Homo sapiens: one gene and its partners. The protein of the gene in region 3 interacts with the protein of the main gene of each other region in a pairwise test. Each region holds a gene or a part of one and is shown on either strand. Other genes may lie near its edges.

The links. Proteins that work in one complex are often made in the same cells at the same time.
Region 1: the proteins of NEMP1 (region 3) and CNIH3 interact in binary tests that used the Homo sapiens proteins (3 or more experiments, as listed by UniProt).
Region 2: the proteins of NEMP1 (region 3) and GUCA2A interact in binary tests that used the Homo sapiens proteins (3 or more experiments, as listed by UniProt).

What each region holds. Positions count from the first base shown.
Region 1 is NC_000001.11:224,737,424-224,742,030, reverse strand, and holds the end of CNIH3 (protein cornichon homolog 3), read right to left. Parts: intron 2,703-4,607; coding exon 2,675-2,702; 3' UTR 1,477-2,674; downstream 1-1,476. UniProt on the Homo sapiens protein: Regulates the trafficking and gating properties of AMPA-selective glutamate receptors (AMPARs).
Region 2 is NC_000001.11:42,161,214-42,169,525, forward strand, and holds GUCA2A (guanylin precursor), read right to left. Parts: upstream 3,533-8,312; 5' UTR 3,500-3,532; coding exon 3,425-3,499; intron 2,398-3,424; coding exon 2,190-2,397; intron 1,758-2,189; coding exon 1,693-1,757; 3' UTR 1,477-1,692; downstream 1-1,476.
Region 3 is NC_000012.12:57,053,993-57,062,510, forward strand, and holds the end of NEMP1 (nuclear envelope integral membrane protein 1 isoform a precursor), read right to left. Parts: intron 6,954-8,518; coding exon 6,780-6,953; intron 6,068-6,779; coding exon 5,887-6,067; 3' UTR 1,651-5,886; downstream 1-1,650. UniProt on the Homo sapiens protein: Together with EMD, contributes to nuclear envelope stiffness in germ cells. Required for female fertility. Essential for normal erythropoiesis. Required for efficient nuclear envelope opening and enucleation during the late stages of erythroblast maturation.

The sequences.
Region 1 (4,607 bases), on a different chromosome or scaffold from region 3:
TCTTCTTCCCTTTGGTCACTTCTGTGGGATACACAATAAGAGACTGGGCAATAAGAACAAAATTATGTGAGAAGAGGCGGACTTGGGTTTAAATCCCAGCTACAGCTAGACATACCCGTTGCTAGCTGTGGCTCTCTGCAAGTGACTCCTCTTCTCAGTTTCCTCATCTATAAAAGAGAGATCATATCCACCTTGTGGTACTGTCATGAGGATCAGGGAAAAGCATATGAAGCATCTAGATCACTGCCAGGTGCCTTGGTTTATAACTGTCATTATTTGGCCACTTCTTCGTAGCATCAAGGCCTTGTTCTGCGCTACTTCACCTAGGGAAGACTCACCTTCCCTGAGGCTCCCTAGTTCTCTCATGGGTGACGTGGGGACGAGAACAGCTAACCTGCTGTGCATGATCACTGTGAGGGGTGGGTGAGGTCACCCCGTGAGCATTTAACACAGTGCCTGGCGCACAGCACGTGCCCCATCAACTGTGCCCTTTACTCTTATCTTTATCATCATGATTAGCTTCTCCCAGGAACTGAAAATTCACTGAAACTCCCAACAGATCACGAGAATTACTTCCCAATCACAACTTGTCGGAGGGAAATATCTGGATGTTTCTCTTTCATAAACATAAGAGCTGTCAGGCCAGTGGCAGTGGCTTAGCCTATAATCCCAGCACTTCGGGAGGTGAAGGTGAGCAGATTGCTTGAGTCCAAGAGTTTGAGACCAGCCTGGGCAACATGGCAAAACCCCATCTCTACAAAAAATACAAAAATTAGCCAGACATGGTGGTGTGCACCTGTAGTCTACTCGGGAGACTGAGGTGGGAGCAACACCTGAGCCCAGGAGGGTCAAAGCTGCAGAGAGCCATGACTGCACTACTGCACTCCAGCCTGGGCGACAGAGTGAGACCCTATCTCAAAAAAAAAAAAAAAAAAAAAGACATTTCTACTTCCATTTTAATGGTCTTTGTGTACTTGTGTCTCCTATTATGAGCCACTACAAATCTTTCTGAAAGAAGACAGAGTATAGAAACAAAACAGCTCCATGGTGAGAAGTAACACAGACCATTCACCTTCTACATCCAGTTGCATTTGCAGGACGGCTGTGCGATTAGATTAGCGTCTGCAGCCTGCCATCCAAGGCTTGCCTCTCTGGATGAGGGTCACTAGTCTTCTCAGGAATGAAGCCAAAGCCAGGCCCAAGCAGCCGAAAGGTAACTCTATCCCTAACAACAGTTACCTGGTCGGTAAAAAGGGCATTGGCCAAGAGGAAGCCTTCTCCCAAAATCATCACCTCAAATTCTCCAGTTTTATACCATAAACCTCAGAGTAAAAGTCTGCATTTTGTTTTCCACAGAATTTTTAGCAGCATGATGCCTTTTTGAAAATTTGCCTTTTCTTCCTATCAGTTTTCCAACCATATGTAGACAAATTCAGCTGTAATGGTTGAAATGAGAGAGCCAGTTAAGTGAGACACTCAAGTTGTCGCTGCATTTTAATAAACATAGCACACAATGTGTTGCTACACAAACACCATTCATAAACCTGAGTCACAGGTTTCAGATGGGAGCTGGGGACGTGTATAAATAGCCTGTGTATGTTAAACAGTAGAAAAGAAAAGAAGTTTGGGGAATAAGGTCAAAATCATTGTGCCCAATTTAAACATCATAAAAATCTCAGCCTTGTCATTATTTACAACCCCCAGCATAACTCCCACCCAAAAGAGAATGCCAAACGGAAAATTCTAAATAAGATGATGTCCTCACGTCGACCTAAACAGTACAAATGATGCAGCATCATAAAACAAAGTTATAATTATGTTGTCTCACTTCCTGGCTGCCGGATGCCCACGGTACAGAGCAGCCACTCCACAGGATTTTCTGAGCTCTGAGCTGTCTGGGGTTTTTGTAAGAACATAGCTTTGACTAGCATTGACCAATTGATTTGCATTTAAAGACTCTGTGATGGTTTGAGGTGGCAAAAGAAGAATACAACTTGTGTGGTGGAGAACTAACACCTTGATCATGTTGCAAACGTTTCAAAAATGCATTTTTCCTATATTCACCCCTCCTCAGCTGAAAATAGCCCAGCAGGCTCAAGGCTGGTTGCAGCTGAAGACAAATCCCACACACCCTCCAGCCCCTCCCATTTGAGAAAAAGGGCATGGCCATGGCTTGGAAGAAAGGCAACAAGAGTCTTGGGCAGCCAAGACATTCTCGAGGCTTTCAACAGGTCCCTGCAGACTTGGCCTTGACTCTGGGTCATTCTGTTCCTTAGCAAGCACCTTGTGGCCTTCCAGCCTCCGCTCCCAGGAACTCATTTGAACTTGCAAGGTGCTGTTCAATGAAGTGGATTCAGGAAGCAGCAATTCTCTCTCAGGAGAGGTCTAGTGTTTCGTCACCTACTCCCCCACACCACTGATGCTCAGAAGGGCTCTAGGACCCCGTGTGTGGAATTCGAATGCCAAAGATTGACAAACAGGGTGACACAGACACGCAGGGTTAACTCGGCTCCCAGCTGCTGCGTGATTCCAGCTCCCATTCAGTCTGACTGCCTGCCGGGTCTATTTCTCACGTATCCTCATTCTGGTCCCTCCTCCAGTCACCAGCAGAAATGCACCTCTCCGTCTCAGGCCTCTCCCATCTCAGTCTCTGATGATGTGCATGGTCTTTGCGTTAAGAGCTCACTAAAGTGTAGATCATGCTGAATGCAAAAAAAAAAAAAAAAAAAAAAAAAGAGAGGAAGGTGTTAGTAGAAGCCCACAGAGGACTCAGGCTGCCCCTCAGGAGAGGGACCTTCCAGAGGCCAGACCCCTTGGCTTCTCCCTCATTCCTGTCACTACAGCATCTCGCCAACTCCACTACTGTGCCCCTTCTACTTCCCACAACACTGGAATAAAAATTTTTTGGGAGAGCATATTGTATCCCTTGGATAAAAGATGTGAAAGCTCTAAGTGCCTATTATCATTCTCATCAGGATGATGATTATGGTTGTTTTCCTTTTTGTGCAATTGCAGGGCAGGTCTGGGGGTGGAGGTGGGGGTGCAGTGGATTCTTTATGCCACCAGCTGCCATGTGCTTGCATGATGGCTGTGTCCAGGGGCTCCCAGATGATGCTGGATAATACGGTAGTGCTGGGGGAAAGATCATCATCACTACTGCAAAGGCCAGCGTGGGAACATAAGCCCTCTGGGCACCAGAACTCAATGAATTCTTGATTGGGTAACTCCCTGGCCCTCTTATTTTTAATGGACTCCAGGAATTAAACATGCATTAAAAGTGTGTGACCTAAAGTATTGCCCCAATACTACTAAGAGTGGGGTGAAGGGGACATGTATCCCTGTGCGCTTAGTAAGGGCTTCAGGGTAATTTTGCAAGGCTGAGGAATGATCTGCACCAAAATATACCTCTTTGTCTATTTCGCAGAAAAAGAAACCAACTATCTTTTCACATTATAGTGAGAAAAAAAGATTCATCTAAGAAGTAAAACCAAAGGAAAGAAATGAAAAGGTTTGACTTCTAACCCTTTGCAGCTGTGGATGCCCAATGAGCTCCTCTGAGTAGCTCAAGTTCCATCTTCAGGAACCTCACACACCTCATGTACACAGAGAACCACTGGTCAGACCTGGAGCAAGAGGGACTTACTCTACTTGGGGAAGCTGAGGGCCAGATGAGGAGTGACAGCAGGGCGAGAAGCCACATTCTAACTCCAAAGCCAGTGCTTTTTGCATAACAGTACTAAGCCTCAAGTGGATACCTTTGTTTACTCACTTTCATTCGTTATGCCAGACACTATTCTCAGTGCTGGGGAAAATGGTGAGTGTGCAGCCCCAATTCCTGCCTTGAGGAAGCATACAGCTAAGCTGTAACAACAAACCACGAGGATTCAGTGAGTGCCAGGCACGGGCCAGGACACTGCAGACGCAGAGGTGAATGAAACCAACATGGTCTCCAGTGTCAAGGAACAAGTAAATCATAAATAACATAGATGGAGAGAAATAAACCTGAGGAGGAACAGGCATGATCCAGAATAACCACGCAGGAGGGTGGTCCTACTACTTCAGGTCGGAAAAAAATCTTTCTACAGAGCAGACACTGTTCACACTGGGCTCACTAGCTAGTATTAGTATCTGCATTAGCTAGTCCCCTTCTAACACAACCCTCAAATATCACCTGGTCCACAAGGCAACCTGAGAAGTGGGGTGATGGGTGCCATGCGGTTCAAACAGGATAGAAGAAAGAGCACAGGCTCTGAAGCCAGATGTTGCTAATTATTAGCAGGGACCTGAGACACATTTCTTAACCTCTCCGAAGTCCTCAGGAGCCCCTCAGGGAGCTCAAACTATAAACTATCAACCCCGTCTTCCCCGCTGTTGTGTGGGTCTCTAGCCCTGAGCTCAGTTCAGACATGGCTCTGCATACACGAGTCCCCTTCCCTCCCTCCCACGGTGGCCTGCGCTGACGCTGCTGTGCTCTCCACCAGCTCCGGATCTGAGGGGCTGGCAGCTCCTAAGGTGGGAGAAACAGAGTCTTTTAAGCAGCCCCAAAGAGCACCAAGGGGCCAGATTCAACAAAGAATGTGGGTGCCCGTGGCGGCCACCCAGGGTCC
Region 2 (8,312 bases), on a different chromosome or scaffold from region 3:
GCATTAAATGATTCTACTCTACCATACATCTCACTTAATCCCCCGCCAACCTTGGGAGGTAGGGTCTGTTATCATCCTCACTTTCAGATGAGAAACCAAGCCTCAGAGAGGGACACTCAGCTTGTAAATGACACAGTAAGGCTCAAACTCAGTCCTGTCTGCCTTCCCAAGCTCCACTCTGTCCTGACTGAACCATTCCTATGTCTTTGTGTCTGTCTGCACCATTCCCACCTTCTGCAACACTCTCTTTCTCCCTACTTCCACACTGGTTTTGAAATTCCCTGCATCCCAGTGCAAATCTCGAGGGGTGATGCAAATGCACTTGCCCTTCCCCTTTCACAAAGCCTTACTGATCTCAACTAGAAGAGACCTTATGTTTTGAATTCTGAAGCCCATGGAATCCCCCTTGAGACACTTCCCCTCCACCCCACTCCTCAAGATGGACCCTTGGGAGTTCTGCCTCCTCTTTTTTTTGTTCCCTCTACCTTTGCTAATAGGCCTCACTTCCACACCCTGCCTCCTCACCCTGTCTGAACCACTTTCAGCCTGATCCTGGTCCCCTTTTCTCTAGTTTGTTTTACCACTTATTGAATTCCTCTTACGTTTGTGTCAGGCCTGAACTGAGGGCTTTATATGCATTATTTCACCCAGCCTGGGAGGCAGGAAATATTAGTGTCCCAGTTTTATAGAGGAAGAGGTGGAGGCACAGAGAGGGAAGGTGACTTTCCAAAGATCACACAGTACTTGGAAAAGCTGTGGCTGGGCCCCTGCCCTGTTTTATATCCTCATGCAATTATCCATGTGGGTCTGGAGGTCAGAGAGACTTCCCCAGGCACAGAAGCCATTACACAACAGGGTGGCCACAGCTGTGCAAGGGTTGTGGGTGATCACAGTGCCCAGAAAGCACCAAGGTCAAGGTCACAATGGGAGCACTGAGACTCTTCCTGGGGGGTTGAGCAAGTTGTCTTGAGGAGAGGCCGTGGAATGAAAGCCTTGGACCCTGAGTAGGAGTTTGCCTGGACAGTAGTGTGGGAAGACGGGCAGTGGAGAGGTGAGCAGCAGCAGAGGAAATGGCAAGAGGTGTGGTTTGGGATGTGGTCAGGGCTGGAGGCCACACTAGCATGGCTGGTGGGAGCCAAGTCCTTGAATACCCAAGAGTTTGGTGCCAGTCTTCTAGTGGGCCAAGTGCCTGTATTGGTTGTCCAAACCAGCTCAGACTGGCTCCCGTGCTCACATGTGGCTCAGTGAACTTGGTGACCTCAGGAGATGTGAAATAAAAGCAAACCCTCCCCACCACCCGCTGCCTTGGTGGTTTGGAGATCCAGATCCTCTCCACGCCTCTGTGTTGTGGCAGCCCCAGGGACAGTGAGCAGCTTAGCAGGGAGAGTGGGGTCCTTCGCTTAGTACATTACATCCCGAGCTTCCAGGGCAGGATAGACTAGGGGATGAAGGAAGGAAGGAAGGCAACACCCAGAGTACTCTGGAATCTGGTTTATTAGCTGGGGGTTGAAGTGGCAGGGAAGGACAGTGTTGGGGCGAGGCCTCCAGTCACCCAGTTCCTCCCCGGGCTGCTCCTCCCGACTGGACCAGGGTAGGTTGAGCTGCTGGGAGTGGAGTATCATGGGTGGCCCTTTCTGCAGGAGAAAAGAGCTTCCCTGCTGCGGAGGGGAGGCAGGCAGTGGGCAAGCCCCCCTAGCATCCGGTACAGGCAGCGTAGGCACAGATTTCACATGTGCCCGGGTCCTCAGCGATTTCCTCTGCACAACAGAGATGGAGCCTCGTGAGAACCAGCATTTCCTCGCGAGGCCCCTGCCGCCCTTGGCCCAGAGCTTGTACGTCACCACCCAGCCCCAGGAGAATCTCAGCAGGCCCGTACTCTGACCTACTGGGCTTTTCGCCCCAAACCAGGGCACACAGACCACTCAAACCAACCAATCAAAGCAGAGATTCCACCAGAAAGAGAGGAAACTAAGACCAGATGAATGGTCTTAGTTCCCAAACCTCAGCAGTTACAACTTGGAATTGAAGTGGGCATGGAACAGACCCACCAATCAGAGCCAAGCTCCCTAGTTCCACCAGTCAGAGCTGAGCCCTTCCTCCAAATCCCACCAATCAGAGCACATCTCTTCCTCAAGTGCCACCACAGTATTCCCGAACCCCACCAATCAGAGAGGAAGGAGGCTGCTCACCCAGCCTCTGAAGTATCTCCTGGGCATTGGGCTCCTTGCAGAGAGGCTTGAGTTCTTCTGGAAAGTTCGGGTTGCTACAGAGGATGGGAACCACAGGTTCACCAGGGATGGGTGCAAAGTTCCTGAGTTTCCCAACCCTGGGCTCCTGGGGCTCCTGGAGGTCTTTGAGCTTCTTCACTGACTCCAGAGAAAAGGAGAAATTTCCATCCTGGAAGAGAGAAGCCCAGAGCATGAGGCCAGGCTGCAGCCTGCTTCCTGGCTGTGCCCCCCGTGCTGGCCCCGGTCCAGCCCAGTGGTGCTCACAGGCAGTGTTCGTGGCATATGGGAGCCAGGCGATCCACAGTGGGGCACTGTGAGGGGCAGAGTTCAGGCCCCACGTCCTGGCTTGGCTCCGTGATGCTGGACACTCTGGAACCCGCAAATTCTGCATGTTGTATGGGGAATGGAGAAAATGGGTGTGAAGCTCCAGGAACACCATAGGTGCCTAATGAGTAGGAGCCAGTGTGCTGATTTTTAGGGAGAGGCAAAGGACCAGCACCCAGGCATCGTAGTTCCACGTGGCCAAGCCCAGGCTGTCTTTCCCCTGCCTGAGAGCGGTGCGGCTGATTACTGGGCCCCCAGCTCCAGCCTGCAGCCTGGTTTTGGTTTGAGAAGCAATAAAAGGCCTCCCGGAATCTGGCTTTGATAGAGATCAGGGCCCCCGCTAGGTGCCAGCTTGGCCTGTCGCCAGCATTGGCACTGGTAGGCATACCCATCTGTCAGGACCTCCAGGGTGTCCATGTGGTTCCTGGGACCCACTGAGGAGTAAGGTCTGGATTTAAATCCAGCTCCTGCACTTCCCACAGCCATGTGCCCATGGCCTGTTACAGAACCTTTGTGAGGCTCAGTTTTCCCCTCTGTAAAATGGGACTAATGATCCCTTTCTTCCAGGTTGATAGTGGAGCCACAGTGAGGGGCTGGGGAAGGAGCCGGCACATAGGACACTCAGTAAATTGGCCAACTCCCCGCCTTCCCCATATGGTTATTCCTCTTCCCTCCACTGGGTTTCTTTCTCCTCCAAAGTTGAAGGGAAAGGTGTGTGTGTGGCTGGACTGAGCAGGAGCTCCTCGAAGAAGGCCAAGCCTGGGACACACACCCTCAATCCAGCCCCAAAGAGGAGGTACTCTCTCAGGGGACCAGACCTGGGCACTAGGGGCAGGGAGCCAGCTGGGCCGGGGTAGGGACACAGGACTCACCTGCACGGTGACCCCTCCTGCCAAGGCGGCCCAGGCCCCAAGGAGGCACAGTGCGGAGAGCAGGAAGGCATTCATGGCAGCAGTGCCCGAGAGAGGGGTGGCTGTTCTGGATGCCAGGGGGAAGCGGCGGGACTTTTAAAGAGGGCAGGTTACTGAGTAACCTGGAAGCCTCTGTCAGTCTCATCTGCTCACCTGTCAGGCCTTATCAGATAAGGCTCGAGACAGCCCTAGGAGATAAGAGCCAGGCAGGGGGGGCCCCGGCCCCTCCCTGAGCACCTACTTTGACCCACAGCCGGGCTGGGTCCTGCATTCATTCACCAACAAGGCACATTCACTCACGACTGCCCTGTGCTGCTGTGTGGGGCCGGCAGACCCTGCCCTTGAGGAGGGGGGCCCAGCCCGACAGTGAAACGCAGGGCGATTAGGGTGGGGTGATCCTAGGATGAGGTGACGGGGCTGCACTGGGGGCTGAGCTCTGGAGAATGGGTGGAAGTTTTCCCAGAGAAGGGACTGAGGACAGAAGGCCATTTCATGCCAAAGGGACAGCCAGGAGGTGAGACGGGCCTGGAATATTCAGGGAAATGTGAGAAATTCCACGGGGGAGGCTGCAGGGCAAGTCAGGGTCTGGGTTTGATTGCCGCGACCTCAAGGAAGCCCTCCGCACAGCCTGGGTTCCGTTCCACCTACTGCCCAGTTGTGAGGCGTGTGAACTTGGGCCAATGCTTTCCCCTCTCTGAGTCTCGTTGTCCCTTGTGTCCCCTGTGGGAACCAAAAATAATACCTACCTCATGGGGTAGGTGTGTGGTAGGCATTACTGTTTGGAGAATCAAGTGAGGTTTTAAAAACATTTAGCTCAATGCCTGGCACACAGAAGGTGCTCAGCAGAGGTCCATTCCCATATTATTAGCAGCCACAGCAGCTCCTGGTCCTCCCTGGCCCCTCTGGTGACCTCCTGCCTGTCTGAGTCACAGGCTGTCCCCATCCTGTGCTGGTCCCCATCCTGTCCTGCCTGCCCTGCAGCCTCAGGGTGTCCTCGAATGAGCTCCTCCCCAATCCGCCCGCCCCCCTTGCCCCTGCAGATACAGTCCCCTTTCCGCGGATCTCACTGGGGAATTGCTTGGGTGTGCCCGCGCCCCTATAGACTCTGACCCCATTCAGACTGCGCCCTCAGGGCAGCGTGCATTCACTGTGTGCTGTTGTGAGCAGGAATCCCCAGGACACAGGAGAAAGGGTAGCCCTGGGATTGTCATCTTTCTACTCAGCCAACCTGGCCCGATGCCAGGACAGCCCTAGGGCGGGAGGTTGGGCAGGAATTCCTGGGTGGGGAGAGTCAACACTGAAGAGGGAATTGGAGAGAGCAGGGCCTGACCAGGAGGGAACTGCAGGGACAAGGCCCTCAGGGAGGGGCAGGTAGCTCCTGGCCCAGCTCCCAGGGCAGTCCTCACAGCTGCACTGGATTTCCCACCCCTTTCTGGTGAGTGTGTGTGTGTGTGTGTGTGTGTGTGTGTTAAGGGGGGGTGTGTCTGCGGAGATGTGTATGTCTGTGTATGCCAAGGTGTCTGTATATACCCTGATGGGTGTGTGTAGCCAAGGTGTGTTTGTATGTGTGCTTGTGCTGAAGGTGTGTGTGTGCTGAGGCATGTGTGTACACTGAGGAGTGTATGTGTATATATGCTGAGGTGTATGTGTGTGTATGCTGAGGGGTATATGTGTGTCCGTGTACACCAAGGTATCTGTGTCTGTGCAAGGAGGTGTGCATATATACATCGAGGTGTGTGTGTGTCAGTGTGTATATACACAGGCGCGTGTGTGTACACCGAGGTGTGTGTGTTTGCTGGGATGTGTGTCTGCTGGGGTGTCTGCTGGGGTGTGTGTATGTGCACTGAGGTATGTGTGTGTGTATGCTCATGTGTGTATATGCACTGAGATATGTGTGTGTATGTGCACTGAGGTGTGTGTGTGTATGCTGAGCTGAGTGCATCTGCTGTGTTGTGCGTGTGTGTGCCGAGGTGTGTGTATACACTGAGGTGCATGTATGCGCTGAGGTGTGTGTGTGCTGACGTGTGTGAGTGCTGACGTGTGTGTATACACTGAGGTGCGTATGTGTGCTGAGGTGCGTATGTGTGCTGAGGTGTGTGTGTGCTGACGTGTGTGTATACACTGAGGTGTGTGTGTGTGCTGAGGTGTGTGTGTGTGCTGAGCTGTGTGTGTGCTGATGTGTGTGTATACACTGAGGTGTGTGTGAGTGCTGATGTGTGTGTATACACTGAGGAGCGTGTGTGTGCTGAGGTATGTGTGCGCTGATGTGTGTGTATACACTGAGGTGCGTGTGTGTGCTGAGGTGTGTGTGTGCTGACATGTGTGTATACACTGAGGTGCGTGTATGTGCTGAGGTGTGTGAGTGCTGACGTGTGTGTATACACTGAGGTGTGTGTGCGCTGACGTGTGTGTATACACTGAGGTGTGTGTGCTGACGTGTGTATACACTGTGTGTGTGCTGAGGTGTGTGTGTGTGCTGAGCTGTGTGTGTGCTGATGTGTGTGTATACACTGAGGTGTGTGTGAGTGCTGACATGTGTGTATACACTGAGGAGCGTGTGTGTGCTGAGGTATGTGTGCGCTGATGTGTGTGTATACACTGAGGTGCGTGTGTGTGCTGAGGTGTGTGTGTGCTGACATGTGTGTATACACTGAGGTGCGTGTATGTGCTGAGGTGTGTGAGTGCTGACGTGTGTGTATACACTGAGGTGTGTGTGCGCTGACGTGTGTGTATACACTGAGGTGTGTGTGCTGACGTGTGTATACACTGTGTGTGTGCTGAGGTGTGTGTGTGCTGACGTGTGTGTATACACTGAGGTGCGTGTGTGCTGAAGTGTGTGTATACACTGAGGTGTGCGTGAGTGCTGACGTGTGTGTATACACTGAGGTGTGTGTGAGTGCTGACGTGTGTGTGTGCACTGACGTGTGTGTGTGCTGACGTGTGTGTATACACTGAGGTGTGTGTGCGTGCCTGGACATGTGTGTGTGCCCACCAAGGTCAGCCACACACTGGTCCCCTCGCTGAGGGCAGGTGGGAGTGGGCGTGGGAGTGAGTGGGGTTAGGGGAAGGAATGGGGCTGAGGGTCGGGGCGTGGGACTTGGATGCTGAGCAACAGGATGTCGGGGGATGGAGCTGGGGGAAAGGTGAGGGGCAGGAGTTTCGGAGGCTGGGGTGGGGATGAACACCGGGAGAAGTTCGGGAGTGCGGCTGAGCTCCATGCTAGACTGGAGCCGGGGCTTGCGGAGACCGGAGCGGGGTTGGGATTGGGGTCAATTCGGGCGACACTAAAGTTGGTTTGGATTAGGGTCAGGTTGAGATGGAGCTGAGGTTGGGCAGGGGTAAATTAGAGTTAGGTGTGGAGCCGAGGGCGCAGTCCAGATTGAACTGATGTGGTGCTTGTAACTGACGTGGAGGCTGGTTTGGGCTAGGTTAGGGCTCATTGGCAGGACTGGGATTGGAGTTGAGTTTGCAGCAGAGATTGGAGGTGTGACTGGGTTAGGTTTATGATGGGGGTGGGTCTGGCTTAAGTGTGACGCTACAGCTGGGTTGGGATTTGACTTTCAGTTAAGGATGGGGCTTAGGTGGGGCCACCAGGCTGAGGACCTGTTTTTTCTGACTCATTTTGGTCTTTCCCCTCCCAAGCTGTGGCAGGAATGGGGGTAAAGGGCAGGGGCTTTCATCCCTGAGCCTCTTTCTCCCACAGCCCCCCTGGCCAAGGCTTGCCTGCTATAAGGCAGGGATGGAATGGAGTGGGTTCAGGAGTGACATCACTCCACACTGTGGGAAAGAGGAAGTGACTCCTAGGCCATGGCCCTTAGGGTCCTCCCCTACCCAACTCCACCTCTGACCTCTACCCTGGGAAATGGGAACCAACTCCCCTTCCCTTGTTCCCCAAGCCCCTCTGCCTAGTCTGGCCCCAGCCGTGAGTTCAGGCCCCCTCCCCTCTGAACCTCCAGGGTGCTCAGGACCTCTGCAGCCTGCTCTGAAGCTGCTGGAAGTTGGATCTTGGGCTCTTCCCAGAACTCCAAGCTTCCTGCCTCCCACCCCAGCCTACACCCTGAGTCCTCAGGCCCTGGTCCCCAGCACCCCCACATCCCTCATTCTTCCATATGGGCAGAAGGAGGGTCTGAGGCTGTTTGGGTTTCCCACACTCCAAGACTGCCTTTTCTGGCAAACTCTTGCTCCTAATAGCCTTCCAGGCCATGCCACCTGTCCTGCCTGCCTCCCCCTCTGAAAACCCATCAGTGGCTGCCCAAACCCTTTGGAAGAAAGCCAGCCTCCCTTGCCTGGCATTCAGGGTTTTTGTGATCAGGCCCCTGCTGAGCTCTCCATTCAACCAGGATCCCAAAGGACTCCCTGGAGTGGACCCAGAAGGAGGGACTTAAACCTGGGGTGCTGTGGCTTCAAGGGCTCAGGCTTCGGAGCCAGGCAACCCTGTATTAGAATCCAGTGTCACCGGCCAGGCTTGCGATGGCTCATGCCTGTAATCCCAGCACTTTGGGAGGCAGAGGCGGGTGGATCACGAGGTCAGGAGTTCAAGACCAGCCTGGCCAACATAGTGAAACCCCGTCTCTACTAAAAATACAAAAATTAGCTGGGTATGGTGATACATGCATGTAGTTCCAGCTACTCGGGAGGCTGAGGCAGGAGAATTGTTTGAACCCATGAGGCAGAGGTTGCAGTGAGCCGAGATCGCACCACCACACTCCAGCCTGGGCGACAGAGCGAGGAAAAATGCTCCATGACCTTTCTGAGCCTCAGTTTCTGCTTTAAAAAATGGAGACAATAACAGCTAGATTGCAAATTTCAGTTTTTCTGGAAGACTCTCCTAACTGACCCCAGCCCTGGC
Region 3 (8,518 bases):
AATTCTTGCAATCTACTCATCTGACAAAGGGCTAATATCCAGAATCTACAATGAACTCCAACAAATTAACAAGAAAAAAACAAACAACCCCATCAAAGAGTGGGCGAAAGATATGAACAGACACTTCTCAAAAGAAGACATTTATGCAGCCAAAACTTACACATGAAAAAATGCTCATCACTTACCATGTTTTTTTATCCTCACTATAACTCTATGATGTACATCTAGCAATTATGCTTTAAGTTTTTATTAGTTCAACCATTAACGATCACCTATGTCTCTTATTTACCTAGTGGTAGTTATGGAAGGAAGAGGAGAAAAGATGTCATTAGTGTACATTAACATAAATTTACTTATGTTCTACATCCTGTTTTCTTCCTACTTTGCCAACTTTCTGTCTTAAAAAAAATAGACAATGGATTTCCATGTAGTCCAAATAACTGAGATGAACTTTGGGAGGCTGAGGTGGGCAGATCACCTGAGGTCAGGAGTTCAAGACCAGCATGGCCAACATGGTGAAACCCCATCTCTACTTAAAAAATACAAAAAGCCGGGCATGGTGGTGGGGGCCTGTAATCCCAGCTACTAAGGAGACTGAGGCAGGGAGAATTGCTTTAACCCAGGAGGCGGAGGTTACAGTGAGCCAAGATCCCGCCTCTGCACTCCAGCCTGGGTGACAGAGTGAAACTCCATCTCAAAAAACAAAACAAAACAAATAATAATGATAATAAATAGGCAGGGTGCAGTGGCTCATGCCTGTAATCCCAGCACTTTGGGAGGCCAAGGCGGGCAGATCATTTGAGATCAGGAGTTCAAGACCAGCCTGGCCAACGTGGTGAAACCCCATCTCTACTAAAACTACAAAAATTATCAGGGTGTGGTGGCAGGTGCCTGTAATCCAGCTACTCGGGAGGCTGAGGCAGGAGAATCACTTGAACCCGGGAAGCAGAGATTGCAGTGAGCCGAGATCATGCCACTGCACTCCAGCCTGGGCAACAGGAAGAGACTGTCTCAAATAATAATAATAATAATTAATTAATGAGATGAAAAAACATAGGTACAGAGTTAATATGAATATTACAAAGGATTCCCAGAGCAAAGAAGGTAGCCAATACATAAAATGAAAGGTACCAGACTCCTATGGTAGAAGCTGGGCCTAGACATAATTTAAGTTTTTATTCAATACACATAAGGCTCACTACAGCCCTACTCTCTCTTCCACCCTATACAGAGCTCTTGGTAGGGATCCCATAGCTGGAGCCATAGGTCTTCTCCCCATCCCAATGGACAAACAAAAGAGATACTTTATGCCATAAAAAAAAAAAAAGAACTAAAATATAATCAGAGTAGTTCCTTGGGCCAAGAATAACCTGTATTTTGCTTTTCTATGAGACAGCATGGTAGTACAACCTGCTGCTCCTGCAAGAATACCCCTTAGAGATTTTGCATCCTGGGAAATCATCCAGTCCAAGGATGAAAGTAGACCAGTACAGACTCGGGACAGGAAGGGGTGGCTAAGAAAAAAAGGGAAATCAGTGGCATGCAAAACCATCTCATTAGAAAGATGAAACTGAGGAGTAAATTGCTGATTACCTGAAAACAAGAAATCCAAACAAGAAAATATTATGTTCATTAAGAAAGACCACAATATATCTATAAAACTTTTATTAAAATTGGAATTAGAAACTATACCAAAAACTTTAAAAATACATTAAGACATTGTTCTTTTTTCTTACAGAAAAGAGGGTGAAAATAAGACCCATGGCAAAGAGCCATCCCTGATAATTTTGTTCCTTTCAAACATTCATGAACATTTAAATAAAATTACAAATATTTAAATAACCCTAAGGTATTACCCACAGGCTAAAACTTGCCAGTAATTCCTTAGCCCTGCTATTTCAATATCAATTCCACAAACATGGAAAATTATGGTAACTGCAGGCTGTAACAGTTTCTAATATTCACATTATGAACTATTTGTTATGTTGTCATAAGAATGTGCTCATGCTATAGGCAAATTCAGAGGTGATTTCACCATTTTCAAATTATCATCAAGAGTGTGAAAGAGGAAGATGACACACACGTGGGATGGTGTGGAAATCCAAAGCCCCACATTTTGGGAGTCTGTGACCACTCCCATCTGCCACTAAAGCTACGAGTTGGTGTTGGCATGAATCTGCTTTGTTTATTCCCAGCAGGCTCTGGCTCGTGTCACATAAGGCACCAACATCCTTTTCAAGGTAGTAACCATCTAGAATCAACTCAATTGTAACCTGAATTCATAAGCTTAAGTCACCAAAAGACATCACTGGGTCATAATTATATAGGTTCCCCTAAAAAAATAAAAAAAAAATCAATTTCTGCTATGTAGAAAAAGAAACAAAAGGTTTAGGTGCCTTTGCCTTGTGCAATGGATATTTCATATGTTTATTAATTGGTTTCAGTTAATATGTAATATGAAGGCATGATAAATGTGTCAAACTGTTCTCTTGTTTCAGATACAATTCTTGGCATTTCAATATAGGTTATTATCTCATATGTCAGACTTGAGTCCAGAGAATACTAGAAGGACATTTAATTTCCTTTCCTCCTCCTTCCTTTCACTACTCAATTCAAAGAAAAGTTATGAGTACACAGCTAGGAACCATTTTTACGTAGGCATCCATCTGAGCCCATCTTGTTTTTTTTTTCTAAAACAACAAAAAGACTAAGGACAATTACATAATGCATTCCCAAGCCTTTTATGGATATCAGGGCCTGGGGGGACTATCTGGCCTATTTGGGTTCTTTCATTCACCAAAATTCTATTATACATGCCAAGGGTTAAAGGGAACACCATCAGTCAAGAGACGGCTGGGCCCTAGAATGGAATCTATTAGCATAAAATGGAACAGTGGGACCCAAAGAGCTATCAGCAAAATTCCCTTTGTAACAGACGTAAAAATCATGAATTTGAGGGGAAAAATAAACTAGTTTTGGTGGGATGCAGTGGCTAACAGGAATTACTTATTAGAAGGTAATGAAGTTGCTAAATTTTCCTTGTTTTTGATCCCTGTGTTCTGTTGGTCTCTTGAAGCAATCTGAGTGGGAAAGGAAAGTGAAAGAAATGTTTTATGCCAGCTGCCTCTTGTATTCCCATTAATGGGAGTCTCTACATTAATGCTCTACATAATTTGGTCAGACTGATGAGAGGCAATAGATTTCCAATGCTGATGAGATCCAGAGCCCTGGAGCCCATTTATGGCTTGACATTCACCCAGCAAGACGCTGACGTGGCAGCAAACACGGCTCCAATGTCCAGCTTACCTCATAGTTATCCCTTCAATCCTTCTTGATGAGATTGGTCTGAGAGATGAGACTGTACTGAAATCACAAGAGCTATAACTGCCAGAGAAAAATTAAATGGGGTCTTCAAGTAGTGACTGAGCCAGCAAACTAAGTGGCCAAGAGGGAGACAAGAGCAGCTCCTAAAGAAGGTTGAAGTCAAGCAATCTCCGGAACACAGAGGATCTGAAGCATCTGGGCAGAGCCACAGGCAGGCAGGGCAAGGACACACAGCACACCAGAGCAGCACCGTCCTTCACTGTGTGAGAGCAACTCTCAGGCTGCAGAACCAATTGCCATCTCCACTGCCTACAGCTCAGGTCTCCAACTACCAGATAGGGAGTAAAAAACAGTTTGATTTTATTCACCTCAAGTCTAAACACGGTGGAAAAAAAACTGGTCTAGAGATGGAAACTATATTTCATGGGGGTTTATTAAACAGAGAAAGAGGAGAATCTTTCACAATTTCACAGTGCTTTCTCATTGAAATAAAGACATGATCAGGAAAAGTCACCCTTATAGGCAAGCTATCACCTCCCTAAGTAGGGGAGGCACCAAAATCTCCAGAGAATCCTGAGACCACTTGCACGAGTTGAATTATTTTTTAAAATAAACTTATGCTTAAATATGCTAGGTCTCAATTTCTATAAATAAGGTAAAAAATAGTATATTTCAGAAGTTTTAATAGTTCTTTGTAGAGAGAGAACATTTTACCATGTACATAATTCACAAGGGTATAAAGGTTTCCCAATGTAAAGTTCCTTTTACCCTTCAACTGTAACCCATAGCATCTGCCCAAATACTGCTCATTTTTCACTTTCTACTATATGTCTCTTTCCTGCCAACTGAGGTAGTTGTCACTTAGGACAGTTTAAGGCTCTGGAAAACACTGGTGGAAATAATCAACTGCCCACCTGGAGGGCAGTCTCAGAGCTGACCCTTTGGAAGTCTGCAATGGAGCTAGGCCTTTCAAAATTACCACGCTAAATGGCTGGTCTAAAGGAGTCATTACGGCTTTTTAAAAAATCATCTGCCTTTTTCCATCATCTTGGTGAGCCAGTAAGTCTGGTGCTGTGCGCTTGCCATGACCATCTATCTTCCTGGCTAAGGTAATTACAGACTTTTCCAGGGTATAAGGGTGAAGACCACAAAGAAAAAGAACCAAGTAAATGACAGACACTTGAGAATTTGCTTCCTCACAGATGACATTGCTGGTTTATAAGGGGTACTTTGCAATGGCAAAAGAATCTGAAACTAATGCTACTGCAATAACAGGCAGCATACATCTCAGGTCAGAAACGCAATCATAAATAAGTGTAAGTTCATGGAAACTTGACAGCTGAATGAGCACCCAGAGGCATGAAGATAACCTGGAGCCTATTTCCTGGCAATGCAAATTGTGGCTGCTGCATAACTACAAATTGTGTATCAAGAAACTACATAGTTTCAAGGCTTAAAAATTACCCAGATTTGGGGGAGTATGGGTGGTGAGAAAAGGCTGAAAGGAATGGACAGAGCATGTAGACAAAGGAAGGGAAAGGAAAAGGAGACAGTTTCCTGATTTCATAGCAACTCAAAGATAACATGACCCAATGACAGGAAAATGGAGAACGTATAAAAAGCATCCAAATCCCCTAAACAAGATGACTTCTCCTAGCTAGCAGGAATAATGCTACTCTGAACATACATAGTTCACAGGTAAGGGAACTGACCCTTCCTGAAAGGGCAAAGGCAGGGTAAGGAAGAATGGGAAGAGAAGAATACAAATGTTTTTTAAGATGGAATTGAAAGTTGAATATAATAAAAAGCCCAGTACATCTCACCTGCAGAAGAGCCTACAGGCATGTTCCTAAAGGCAAATAGGACTTTCTATCATATGTATGAGAACTAAATCAAAGCTTAAAACAACAGCTCCTGGGGCTTTAATGGATAATCCATATTAATAAATATGTAGGGGCCTAGGGGGTGTGTCACTCTGGAGCACTTGCTGGTTCTGGAACATGAGTTTGTTATGTTTTTTAAAAGACATTCATTTAAAAAACAAAACAATAAAAATCTATTTTCCTCCCAAAACAGTTAAATCAATAATTATTCTAAAGTCACTGAAATAAAAGCTGGAGTGAAGGAGGCTCAGATTTGTGGATTTCTCTCTGGAAGTTGCAGCCTATAGTCTAAAAGCATTCCTGCACTTAACAACAGTTCTTACTTTGGAGAGCCAGCCAGTGACAGAAATGCCATGATTGAATCAACTTTCAAGAAGGAGCTAGAATGCCATGCTAGCTGTGGCCATCCAATTTCTCTGGAAACATAAAAGTGGGCTGTTAGCTTAACCAATGGGAAGTGAACTACCCAGCATTCACTACTTTATCCACTCTCCTTCCTCAGGGATCCCATAGAGACCTCCCATTTCCAAAGGGAGGCCTTTTTAGGCCTCTTATTTCAGTAGGAGAATTTCTACCCTATCTATCTCACTCTGTTTCAAAGGGTTGAAAGCAATTGCACAACACATGCAACATGGACCAAGGCACCAAGCCAGTCCACGTAAAGATAACTGACCACTACCTAGGTTAGAAAGTTGTTCTGTGTGATAGCAGGACACCGAGAATATGAGTCCTCCTCCTCAGAGGATGCTTCCTCATAGATTTCATCCTGGGCAATAATGCTCCCTAATCCATACTCCTGCTCATGGACAGAAACTTCATTTGGCGTGAGGTGGGAAGAGCCTTCCACAAAGTCAGCAAATCTGGAAAAGAGAAGATAATACTCGTTAGAAATATCCTTCTGTCCTTTCTGGTCTTCTTTCAAAATAAGAACAAATTAAAGCCCTCGATATGCTCGCAACTCAAATTATATTAAGTCTAGCCAACATCCTTGTCCTTACTCTGGCAGGTAAGTAGACTAAAGCATGAAGTTAAGGAGAAAAGGAAAGCTGGGATCATAGGCTAATACCCCTGCAACTCCATCCTGCTTAATAAGCACTTGCCTATCCTTTCTAATTATGAAAGTGCCAAGGTTCCTTTAGTCATCTGTAATCCTGATAAGAGAAGATTAAGGGGCATTACAGTTATTCACGTTTATGGCCCTGTAAACTTTATGCCATCATGATTCCAAATTGAAGCTTCACATACTCATTGGTACATTTGCCCCCAACTAAAAAGTGGGTAGGGGGGAACCCTACCAACTCAGACAGCAATGCAAAACTTTCAGAAGGGAAACTTAATATGGTACTGGAGTCTTCCCATCTTAATGCTACAATCAAAGCTAGAGTAGATAGTTCCCTGAGGAAACAGGTTACTGCTTAATGTGTGATTATATATCCACCCTTCTCTTGACTACTTGAAGATTAACAGGAAAACAAAGGTCACAAGTGCACGATTCTCTAGAAGTATGATCTCTGGTAGAACTCAAGGTCACAATTACCCTGATAGATGCTTGGTATATCTGGCCGAGTTTACCTTTTTGGAGACTGGATTCGAGAAACAGTCTTCCAAGCAGAGCAGTCTGGACTGTTACAAAATTCTCGGAGCTCCTCTAAAGCCTTTCGGGTTTCTACCTCTCCTTGTATCCGATATTCTTCTTCTGTCAGGAGACGAGGGGGAACAGGCTTTTCTGCTCCCTTACACACCTTTCTGTGCTCACCAAAATAACATTATGAATCATTAATCAGTAATCTATATCCATCCTTACTTCTAGCTCCCTTCAGTGGGCCAAGAATACAGCAGACAGCCTGAACATTAAGAGTCATCACTCCTAAAAATTCCATGGACATCTTTAGTTATAATGAACTCCTGATACATTAGACTATGAGTGACAATTCATAGGCGACAGAGCGAGACTCCATCTCAAAAAAAAAGTGATATAATTTGCACCACCTTGTGGTAACAGGAACACATGACATTTTACTAGACCTTTTTATTTTATATAAAATGACTAGAATAAAAATATAAAAATGCCTATAGAAAGTAAAAAATTATAGTCAATATTATTCACTAATGTGAACAAACTCACTTTATTTTCCAATAAATGATAAAATACTTACTTATTTTCTAGTAGATGGGAAAATAACAGAAAATCATGGTATAAGACTGTGGTTCTAGCCAGGCACAGTGGCTCACGCCTATAATCCCAGCACTTTGGGAGGCCAAGGCAGGCAGATCACCTGAGGTCAGGAGTTGGAGATCAACCTGACCAACACAGAGGAACCCCATCTCTACTAAAAATACAAAATTAGCCAGGCATGGTGGTGCATACCTGTAATCCCAGCTATTCGGGAGGCTGAGGCAGGACAATCGCTTGAACCAGGGAGGCGGAGGTTGCAGTGAGCCGAGATCATGCCATTGCACTCCAGCCTGGGCAACAAGAGCAAAACTCCATCTCAAAAAAAAAAAAAAACAAAAAAAAACGCCGGGCAAGGTGGCTCACACCTGTAATCCCAGCACTTTGGGAGGCCAAGGTGGGCAGATCACAAGGTCAAGATTGAGACTATCCTGGCCAACATAGTGAAACGCCATCTCTACTATAAAAATGCAAAAATTAGCTGGGCATGGTGGCATGTACCTGTAACCCCAGCTACTCAGGAGGCTGAGGCAGGAGAATCGCTTAAACCCAGGAGGCAGAGGTTGCGGTGAGCTGAGATAGCACCACTGCACTCCAGCCTGGTGACAGAGCAAGACTCCATCTCAAAAAAAAAAGATTGTGGTCCAGTAACTTGGTTTCCCAAACTGAAAGCATCACCTTGACTATCTATAATAGACAACTTCAGGACCTAGTAACATTCCATATTTATTATGCAAGGTGACAAAACATGCTATGAATTACATCTTAAAATAAGACTAAGACCTCCAGAGCAATCTGAAAGCCACTGAGAAATAGTCTGAAATGGGCTGGGTGAGGTGGCTCACGCCTATAATCCTAGCACTTTGTGGGGCTGAGGTGGGCAAATCACCTGAGGTCAGGAGTTTGAGACCACCCTGGCCAACATGGTGAAACCACATCTCTATTAAAAATACAAAAATTAGCCAGGCATAGTGGCGCCCACCCGTAGTCCCAACTATTCGGGAGGCTGAGGCAGAAGAATCACTTGAACCCGGGAGGTGGAGGCTGCAGTGAGCCGAGATCACGCCATTGTGCTCCAGCCTGGGTGACAGAGAGAGACTCTGTCTCAAAAAAAAAATCTGAACCCAGGAGACCTCAA